Homo sapiens: one gene and its partner. The protein of the gene in region 2 purifies or fractionates together with the protein of the main gene of each other region. This does not show direct contact. Each region holds a gene or a part of one and is shown on either strand. Other genes may lie near its edges.

Evidence for each region. The genes of interacting proteins can lie anywhere in the genome.
Region 1: the proteins of ADD3 (region 2) and MLPH purify together in Homo sapiens (affinity purification with mass spectrometry; one large-scale study listed by BioGRID and IntAct). This does not show direct contact.

The regions. Positions count from the first base shown.
Region 1 is NC_000002.12:237,528,004-237,532,843, forward strand, and holds part of MLPH (melanophilin), read left to right. Parts: intron 1-4,840. UniProt on the Homo sapiens protein: Rab effector protein involved in melanosome transport. Serves as link between melanosome-bound RAB27A and the motor protein MYO5A.
Region 2 is NC_000010.11:110,114,985-110,119,824, forward strand, and holds part of ADD3 (gamma-adducin), read left to right. Parts: intron 1-1,274; coding exon 1,275-1,426; intron 1,427-2,357; coding exon 2,358-2,438; intron 2,439-3,602; coding exon 3,603-3,752; intron 3,753-4,226; coding exon 4,227-4,370; intron 4,371-4,481; coding exon 4,482-4,580; intron 4,581-4,840. UniProt on the Homo sapiens protein: Membrane-cytoskeleton-associated protein that promotes the assembly of the spectrin-actin network. Plays a role in actin filament capping. Binds to calmodulin.

The DNA.
Region 1 (4,840 bases), on a different chromosome or scaffold from region 2:
GTGCTAAGTGAAATAAACCAGTCACTCTGGACACATGCTATATGGTTCCACTTAACCTGAGGTTCTTAGTCAAATTAATAGAGACAGAAACTAGAATAGTAGTCACCAGGGGCTGGGGTCAGGGGGATGGGAATTAGTGTTGAATGGGCACAGAGTCTCTGCTTTGCATGATGAAAGGAGCCCTGGAGATGGACGGTGGTGACAGTTATACAACAATGTGAATATACTTAATACCTTAAAAATGGATAAAAGGGTAAATTTTTATATGTATTTTATAATTGAAAAAAGTAATATTTTATTGAATTTAGGAGAAAATAAATAATCTTTAGTCTTTCAAAAAATTTATTTTTTTTTAATTTTTTTTTGAGATGGAGTCTCCCTCTGTGGCCCAGGCTGGAGTGTAATGGCGCAATCTCGGCTCACTGCAACCTCCACCTCCCGGGTTCAAGTGATTCTCCCTCCTCAGCCTCCTGAGTAGCTGGGAATACAGGCGTGCACCACCATGCCTGGCTAATTTTTGTATTTTTAGTAGAGACGGGGTTTCACCTTGTTGGCCAGGCTAGCCTCAAACTCCAGGCCTCAGGTGATCCCCCCACCTTGGCCTCCCAAAGTGCTGACATTACAAGCGTGAGCCACTGTGACGTACAATTCAGTGACAGTACATTTACAGTGTTGTGTAACCACCACCTCTCTCTAATTCCAAAACAACTTCACCCCCCAAAAAAATCCCATACCCATGAAGCAGTTACTTCCCAGTCTCCCTTGTCCCCGGCCTCTGACAACTACCAGTCTTCCTTCTGTCTCAATGGATTTGTCTATTCTGGACATTTCATGTAAATGGACTCACAGAAGGACATCTGGCCTTTTGTCACGAGCTCCTTTCACCGAGCATAATGCTTCTGAGGTCCATCCATGCTGTAGCACATATGGGTGCTTCATTCCTTTTTATGAAAATATATATTTTATACTTGATCAAGTATTATATATTTTACAAGAGGAGGAAATAATCTGTCAGCTATGTGAAACGCTTAGCAGGCTGTATTATTATTATTTTTTTTAGAAAGAGTGTTGCTCTGTTACCCAGGCTGGAGTTTAGTGGAGCAATCTCGGCTCACTGCAAGCTCCGCCTCCTGGGTTCAAGCGATTCTCCTGCCTCCCCTTCCTGAGTAGCTGGGATCACAGGCGCCCACCACCACGCCCGGCTAATTTTTGTATTTTTAGTAGAGATGGGGTTTCACCATGCTGACCAGTCTGGTCTTGAACTCTTGACCTCCAGTAATCTGCCCACCTCGGCCTCCCAAAGTGTTGGGATTACAGGTGTGAGCCTCCATGCCCAGCCCCTTAGCAGGCTTTATATAGGCATTAAGAAACTCTGCTCATAATACTTAACACCTGTTAAATTAGTAGAATCACTCACATTGTAGACATTAACTTATGAAATAATTCATCACAAGATTCAAGTGCCCTGAGTTCCGCTTGCTGCATTTAAATGATGATTCTGTTGAGTCAGCTGATTTCAATTTGAGCAAGTTCATGTTACCGGGGGAAAGGCAATATTGTTTCTTCTGAGAACATCATGACCACTAGGTTCTTTAAGGCAATGAAAGACACAGGCTATTAATGTCTCTGATAGAGCCTTGACTCCAGCAACGTAATCACAGGATGGGGGACTGTTCTGTAACTGATGACTCTTGAGGCATGAAACCCAGAGAAGGGGAAGTGGGGCTGCTCTGAATGGAGACCGGAACCGCAGTTTCACCAAGGCTGGTCTCAGGCACATCTTCTGGAGCCTGGATGAATGTAGGGCCAGCTCCTTGGGCATGGTGATGCCTGGTACAGAGCCCCTCCTCCCTCCTCCTGGGAGAGCTGGGGAAGGGAATGCCCTGTGGAGCTTCCCTTCGGGCCTGTGGGCTCTGGGCTGTCAGGAGGGAGGCTAAGTGAAAGCTGAGCCTTGTCAGGAAAGGCCTGGAAGCAGCGAGGACGCAGGTGGTGCACAGCTGGGGTTCTCAAGGGGCAGGCGAGGTGGGCAGGGCACGCAGAAGCTGCTCTGCAGGGTCTAGGGCTTCTCCAGCGCCCTGGCCTTTCGGTGCACAGGACGACCTGAGATGGAGCATCACCCAGCTCTTCAGCCACAGGGCTGCAGATTCCTCTCCCAAGGCCTTGGCCTACACTGTGGCAGTCACTAGACCAGCACTGGCTCACGAGTGGGCAACAGGAAGTATGCAGTAGGCCCTGGGCTTTTCCGAGCCCTCATTCAGCAGGAAATCTGTCCCGTGGCTGTTCTCACAGGGCCAAACCTTCGCGTGCATGATAGGTGAGGGGCTCCTCCGACATCCTGTCACTTTGCTTCTGCACCCAGAGAAATGATCTACCAAAAATGAGCACCTGAATTTCAAAAAGAGACTTCCTTAGCATGGCAATATGGGGAATCATAGGGGTTTGGGTTCTAAAATTGGGCTAGTGTCCACGGGGCAGAAGCATGCAGTTTCTGAATTCAGCATCTCTCTGGACTCAGTGTCCTCAGCTGACTTTTTACTGTAGTGTCATCTGGAAGCTTCCTCAACCCTGGGTGGAAGTTTCTCCTGCACCAACTTCCTTGAGGGCCCACTTAGTCTCTGAAAGAAGCACTCTTGCCCCTGAGCATAGCCGGGCATGAAAGGCCCTGACAAGGCCTGCGTGAAGACTGCTTATGGCCGCGTCACCCATTGGGGCCCACAATTCCTGAGGCATGGAACTCCTTTTGTGTAACAGCAAGCAAGGCCCTGACACAAGGAAGTGTCCTTTCATTCAGATCAGGGAGTGACTGGCTTGGCCCCTGCAGTTTCTGTGTCCCGAGAGGACTTGAAACCTGCAGGTATGCTGAGCTCTGGCGGGGACTCAGAGCAGACCCAGTGCTGCAGCAGTCAAGCCTCCACCACCTGCATTCGCAGGTCTAGTTCTGCAACACGGAACACACACAAGTCGAGCAGAGCCACTTCATTACTCACAGTCAGGCAGCGAGGTCCCCCAGGCTCAGGGAAGCTGCAGGGAGGGTGGAGTATCGGCTGCAAGTATCCTGTGTCATGCGGCAGCTGGGGGGTCCCAGAAAGCATTCCTCTCTGAGTCTTATACCCTGGGAAACTGGGATCACTGGGCCAAAGGATATCCAGTTCTAGAGCCCAGGTTCTAGACAGTCCAGACAGTTCTTCCTTACATCAGGAAGTGGCTTTCTTGACACATTCTACAGTTATTCTGAGAAAAGGGGAAGAGCCAACTCAGCCAAGTCCATCCAGGGACCTGTGGATGCAGGGGACAGTGGAGGACTAGGGTGGCCAGGATAGAGACCTCCCCAGTGTGGCCAGGATAGAGACCTCTTGGGTGAGGCCAGCATAGAGACCTCTCAGGGTGGCCAGGTAGAGACCCATGGGACATCCTTGGCTGGCTGAGCATCTCCTAGTCTCCTAGCCTGAAGACAACAGGATGAAGAGGAGAATCAAGTTGTCTATTTTCAGTAAACCTGTAGTTTAGCAACTTTAGTAGCCTTTAGTAAAATACATAGCGTGGTTTCCAGCCCCACTGAAACCAATTATCCTTTATACCTGCTTGGAATTATTCTCTAGTTCATGTTTGTATATCCTGCCTGTGGAATTGTTTCTCTTTATTTATTCCTATTAACTTGTATTTACTTTGCCAACCCTAAATAATGAGATTCAGAAAATATAAATAAGTATTAGTATATCAAGTTTATCAGAACAAAAGCTTGACAGTGGCCACCCAGAAACACAGACTTCAAACAAATGGGGCCCAAAGTGGACTAGTGAAGTTTTCACCTATGTAGAAATTGTAGCAGGATCACAACCTTGCAAAGGAACAGTGACCTGGGGGGCCCTTATCTCCAATCCTGTTTGGTCTTAATTATTCACAGGGAAAAAAAAAGTAGAAGTTTCAGCTGTGAAACATGTCCTCTCAAGACTCAGAATTTAAAGTTCCAACAGCTTTGTTTGAATTATTCAATGTGACAACCTCAACTAATATTTCACCTAGATTGTTTCCCATGCATCTTTATATGGAGGAAATTAAGCAGCAGAAAGAAGCTCCAAATGCAGCAGCGATCCTGTACTTCAGAGAAAACCCAGGCAGACTCTTAGAGGGGCCTTTGTGAAGTGGCTGTGGTGGGACCCCAGGAGGAAGCACTCTCAATCTGCCCATCAACCCCAAGACTCCCAGCCATGCCCTCAGGGCCTGAGCTTTCTCAGGAATCGTATTTTATCACAGCTCATCTGAGGGGTCAGGCAGCTGTGCATTGCCTGCCTTTGCATTTGTATTGACAGTCACAGCTTTCCCGACGAGGGGTAAAGACTTCCTGTAGATATTGTTCAAGCCCAGACAAGGCCCAAGATGGCACAAGCATGTGGTAGGAAGGAAGTTTCTAAGGGGCTGAGATGGGAGACGGGAGAGGAAACGGCCCTGGCACGCACCCTCCGCCCCCTCACTCCCAAGGGCCGGCCCTGGGGCCATTCGTGTGTGCTCGGGCTACAGACACTGACGGTTTCCCATAAAAGTGTCACCAGTGACATATTTTGTTGGTTTGCTTTAATCCCTAGCTAGTGTCTGTATTGCATTTGTAAACTCTAAACTTTGGTATTGTCGCGAGTTGAAAGCTCAAGGGGTTCCTACCTAGTATTCTGTCCGTACATATCTAAGTAATGTGATAATCCTGATGACTGGTGCCCACACAGGGTCAGATGCCCACGTCTGAGTGATGCTACTCCCACCAGAGCAGTTGTTACTGTTGGAGAAATATAATTTTTAGAAAAACCCGAAATCTTTTCATTACCCAGAAAATCTCTCCATAAGGGTA
Region 2 (4,840 bases):
GGAAGGATTGCCTGAGCCTAGGAGTTCGAGGCTGCAGTGAGCCATGATCACACCACTGCATTGCAGCCTGGGTGACAGAGTGATACCCCTGCCTCTAAAAAAAAAAAAAAAAAAAAAGGGTGGGGCCAGTTGCAGTGGCTCAGGCCTATAATCCCAGCACTCTGGGAGGCCAAGGCAGGTGGATCATCTGAGGTCAGGAGTTCAAGACCACCCTGACCAACAAGGAAAAAACCTGTCTCTACTAAAATACAAAATTAGCTGGGCCTGGTGGCACATGCCTGTAATCCCAGCTTCTCAGGAGGCTGAGGCGGGAGAATCGCTTTGAACCTGGGAGGTGGATGTTGCAGTGAGCCGAGATCGTACCATTGCACTCAAACCTGGGCAACAAGAGTGAAACTCCGTCTCAAAAAAAAACAAAACAAGCAGGCTGGAAAATGGGGAGGAGGACCTGATCAGAACTAAAGACCAGGGAGTGAGTCGTCTACACAAAAATAACAATAGGGAGGCTCAAGAGTCTATAATGTTTTTGTAGGGAAAAGTAAAATGAGAAAGAACATAGTGGAGGACTGAGCTTTGGGGAAGAGCCAAAGCTGGGCAAAGGGAACAGATGAACTTGTTAAAGGAGAAAAGCATGTAGACAAGGAATAAGAGATCTAGGATAGTATCACATGGGCCTCGAGAAGAGTTCTAGGAATGAGGCAGTGTAAATAGTGTAAAGCTGTAAAGAGGTCAAGGAGAATGAAGACTGAGCAAAAGTTGAACTTGGTAACAGCTGAACTTGGCAATTAGATCATTAGAGACCTTCAAGACCTTCAATAGGACAGAAATCATACTACTATTTGCATGCATTATTTTCCATCTCAAATGTTTTTTGTGTTTGAATAAAAGTCAAGAGAGATAATAGAAAAGTAGCTTTCTGTTGAGGTCTTTTCATCATAAAACTAGCAGTAACCTCAGTATTTAACACTTTTACCCTCGGAGATATGTGTAACCATTTTTCCCCAGTGGTGTGAGCCTTTGATATAGTCACTCCTTAGCAAGCACTACATGAAGCAACTTTTACTAAGCAATCAAAGATAGCTGATACTTATTTTTACTCTCAGTTTACCTCTCTGAAGGAGAATAAGCTAATAAAATATTATATGGGCTGATAAATTTCAGATTATTATATACAAGGCTGGGATACTCCCAGACGCAGGCTACTTCCTGGCAACTAATTTCCAGGTAAGGGATTGCATGACTCGTATCTCTCTCCACATTTTTTGCTCTTTTAGGTCTTGGCATGGTCACACCTATCAATGACCTTCCTGGTGCAGATACATCCTCATATGTGAAGGGAGAAAAACTTACTCGCTGTAAACTTGCCAGCCTGTACAGACTTGTAGACTTGTTTGGATGGGCACACCTGGCAAATACCTATATCTCAGTGAGTTCTTCAGCTTTCAATTCCTTTTTTAAAAAATTCCAGCTAGAAGGCAACTATACTCTTCTTACCTTTACCTGGAAGTCCAGTTTTCAGACTTATTCTCTAAACCTAGTATGCTAGATCACAACCAAATACTGATTTAAACCTTATACCCAAGGGAGAGGCTCCAATTCCCCCACCTTTCTTCTCCCCTTACTATCTATGTTGTTCCAAGTTCCTTTGGTTCAGACCAACTGTAGAATCTATCCAGGAAGAAATCCTTCTGGCAAAATTGTCCCTCTCCATGATAATTATGTCTGAGCATCAGTGGCTTTAAAAAGCATTTGAGGCAAGGAAGATAGAGGAGGTCAGGGAAGTTTCCTCCCTGGTCTTTATTTTTAAAATATATTCTTTCCATTCACCATCATATTTTTATTTTGCCACACTTGGAAAAAGATGCTATTTGGAAACAAAAGAGGATTAAAATATTGTACAATGGAAATGGTACAGATGCAGTCCATCAAGAATCTTTCTTCCTTTCCACCTTCCATCTTTATTTTAATTCCTTCCTAGGAAGAGATTTTGTTCTCTTTCCTTTGCCCATTTTGCCTTAACTTCCAAGTTATAAATTAAGGTTATAATTATTACCACATTGGCTTGAATAATATTAGCATTTATTTTTCATGAACATAGCTGACCCTAAATAACCTTAGAGCCCCAAAATAACACTTTTAGGTAAGTCCAGTAAATAAGAAACTAAAGTCAGAATTTTTTAGCAAGTACTTGAGGGAAACTTTAGGAAAGTTTCATGTTGTAGACCTTTAATTTTTGCTTTGTTGGTTTTTTTTTTCCTGATCTCTTACAATTATTCATTGTAAATATATTTGTAGTCATGTTTCCACTGCAAAATATGAACCACTTCATAGTAATTCCCTGTTGTTTTTTTTTCCAGGTAAGAATAAGTAAGGAGCAAGACCACATTATAATAATTCCCAGAGGCCTATCTTTTTCTGAAGCTACAGCCTCCAATTTGGTATAATTTTCCATTCCTGTGTTGCTTTTTCTGAGCTTTCTTTGGCTTTTCTGACAGTTCTTAGCTTTTAGCACAGGACAGAATAAGAAGGTATGGATGGAAAAACATTTACTAGTGAACAGTGAAGGGAATTTGAACTATGTTGTTTTAGGGAAAAGCTTTAGAGAATAGCGTAATTGAAGAGACTAATAAATGAGTTGGTCTTATCAGTTAACTTGTCTATGTTTTGAAGGGAATCGTGATTTTTTTTTTTTTACCACCCTATACACTCAGAAATTTGTGTAAAAAAATTGTGTAAAAAAAACACACACGGCCAGGTGCAGTGGCTCACGCCTGTAATCCAAGCACTTTGGGAGGCTGAGGCAAGTGGATCACGAGGTCAGGAGTTCAAGACCAGCCTGACCAACATGGTGAAACCCCATCTCTACTAAAGATAACAAAAAATTAGCTGGGCGTGGTGGCACACACCTGTAATCCCGGCTACTCGGGAGGCTGAGGCAGGAGAATCGCTTGAATCCATAAGGTAGAGGTTGCAGTGAGCCAAGATCGCACCATTGCACTCCAGCCTGGGCTACAGGGCGAGACTCTGTCTTCAATACACACACACACACACACACACACACACACACACACACACACACACACACACACAATGTTCATAGCTAGATTTAAACAAAGTTCAGCTGGTATGAGTATAGGATCTGACCTTAGTATTTTATCTTTTCCATGACTACTCCTAGCCACTGTCATCAGCTTACAGAGTGACAGGAGCTACCTTGGTTCTGGGTGCTTGCTGCAATGTTAGCAAATAGAAGTTTTCTAGCCAATTCTATACATGCCAGACTTGTTCAGACCTCCGATGAAGAGCTTAAGTTTCTCCTTTTCTTGGAAACTGTACTTCTTGCCAAGTACCAAGTTTTGTTGCACCTGTTTTATAAATAAAGTTTTATGGGAACAAAGCTATACCTGTTAACTTACAGATTGTTTATGGCTGCTTTTGTACTGCAGCTGCAGATTTGAGTAATTGCAGCAGAGGCCCACAAAGTCCAAAATATTTGCTATCTGACCTTTTACAAAAAGGTTTGCTACCCCCTGGTTTAGCTTGTGAAACACAAACTTTGATACGTATATACCAGTTAAATATGTCCTTCTGATTTTTTCCAGGTGAAAGTCAATATAATAGGAGAAGTGGTTGACCAGGGAAGTACCAATTTGAAAATTGACCATACAGGATTCAGTCCCCATGCTGCAATCTATTCAACACGTCCTGATGTTAAGTGTGTGATACACATCCATACCCTTGCAACAGCAGCTGTAAGTCAATGAAAGTCCAAAACTGACAGGACGCTGGAAGATGTATTATTTTTGTGGCTTTCTCAACAGGATGCTTTACTATCTGCTTTTCAAAATCATATTTGATACAATAATCTGCATACCCAGAAAGCAAAAGGCCTTTGGGACCAAATGCTACCATTCTAGGAAACAACTGGAGAAATAACATTTGGATTCTAAAACTAACCAGTTTGAAAATTGGGTCATTGAGTTTTTTGGAGCAAAGCTTCTTTCATAATATTTGACACAGCATATAAGTTGAGTTGTATTCCCTAAGTCCTTTTTGTGTGTGTGTGGAAGAAACAAAATGGGAAGTGAATAAAGTGGGAAGTGGGCTGCAATGGTGAAACACAGTGAATAGGCCAGTGTTTTCCTGAGCTGACCAAACAATCAGGTTCCTATGAAAATGTATTTAGTAACCAAATGTGTTATCTTGGTATGGGCCAAACCAAATAGGTATCCTCCATGAAATGTGGGATCCTTCCAATTTCTCAAGAGTCTCTTCTTCTGGGAGATGTTGCCTATTATGACTACCAAGGGTCACTTGAAGAACAGGAGGAGAGAATTCAACTGCAGAAGGTTCTGGGACCAAGTTGTAAGGTATGTAGTAGAGTTTGTCTAAGGAGCTATTTTTGTTGCTGCTGCTGTTGATGAAAACAGTGTGAGCTATGCCAGTTATTTCAAGTGATTGCTGTGGGCATTCTATTTTAGGTGCTGGTACTCAGGAATCATGGTGTGGTTGCACTTGGAGAAACATTAGAGGAGGCTTTTCATTATATTTTTAATGTGCAACTAGCCTGTGAGATTCAGGTAGGAAACATTATTCCCCTTTTTTAATTGCTTTGTTATTTGCTCGTTTAGTTGGATTTTGTGTACTTATTTGCAAATACATATTAGTTAGTGGCTTTTTGTCTTTTAAGAGAAGTTCTGCTCTACTTATGTAGGCAGGGTTTTCAACTCAGTTATCTCTTGAATTGAAAATAGGAGTAAAGGAAATTAAAATTTTCTCACACACAATCTAAGGGCCTCATAAACATCATTTTCCCTACAATCCTGCTTTTTAAGTTAGT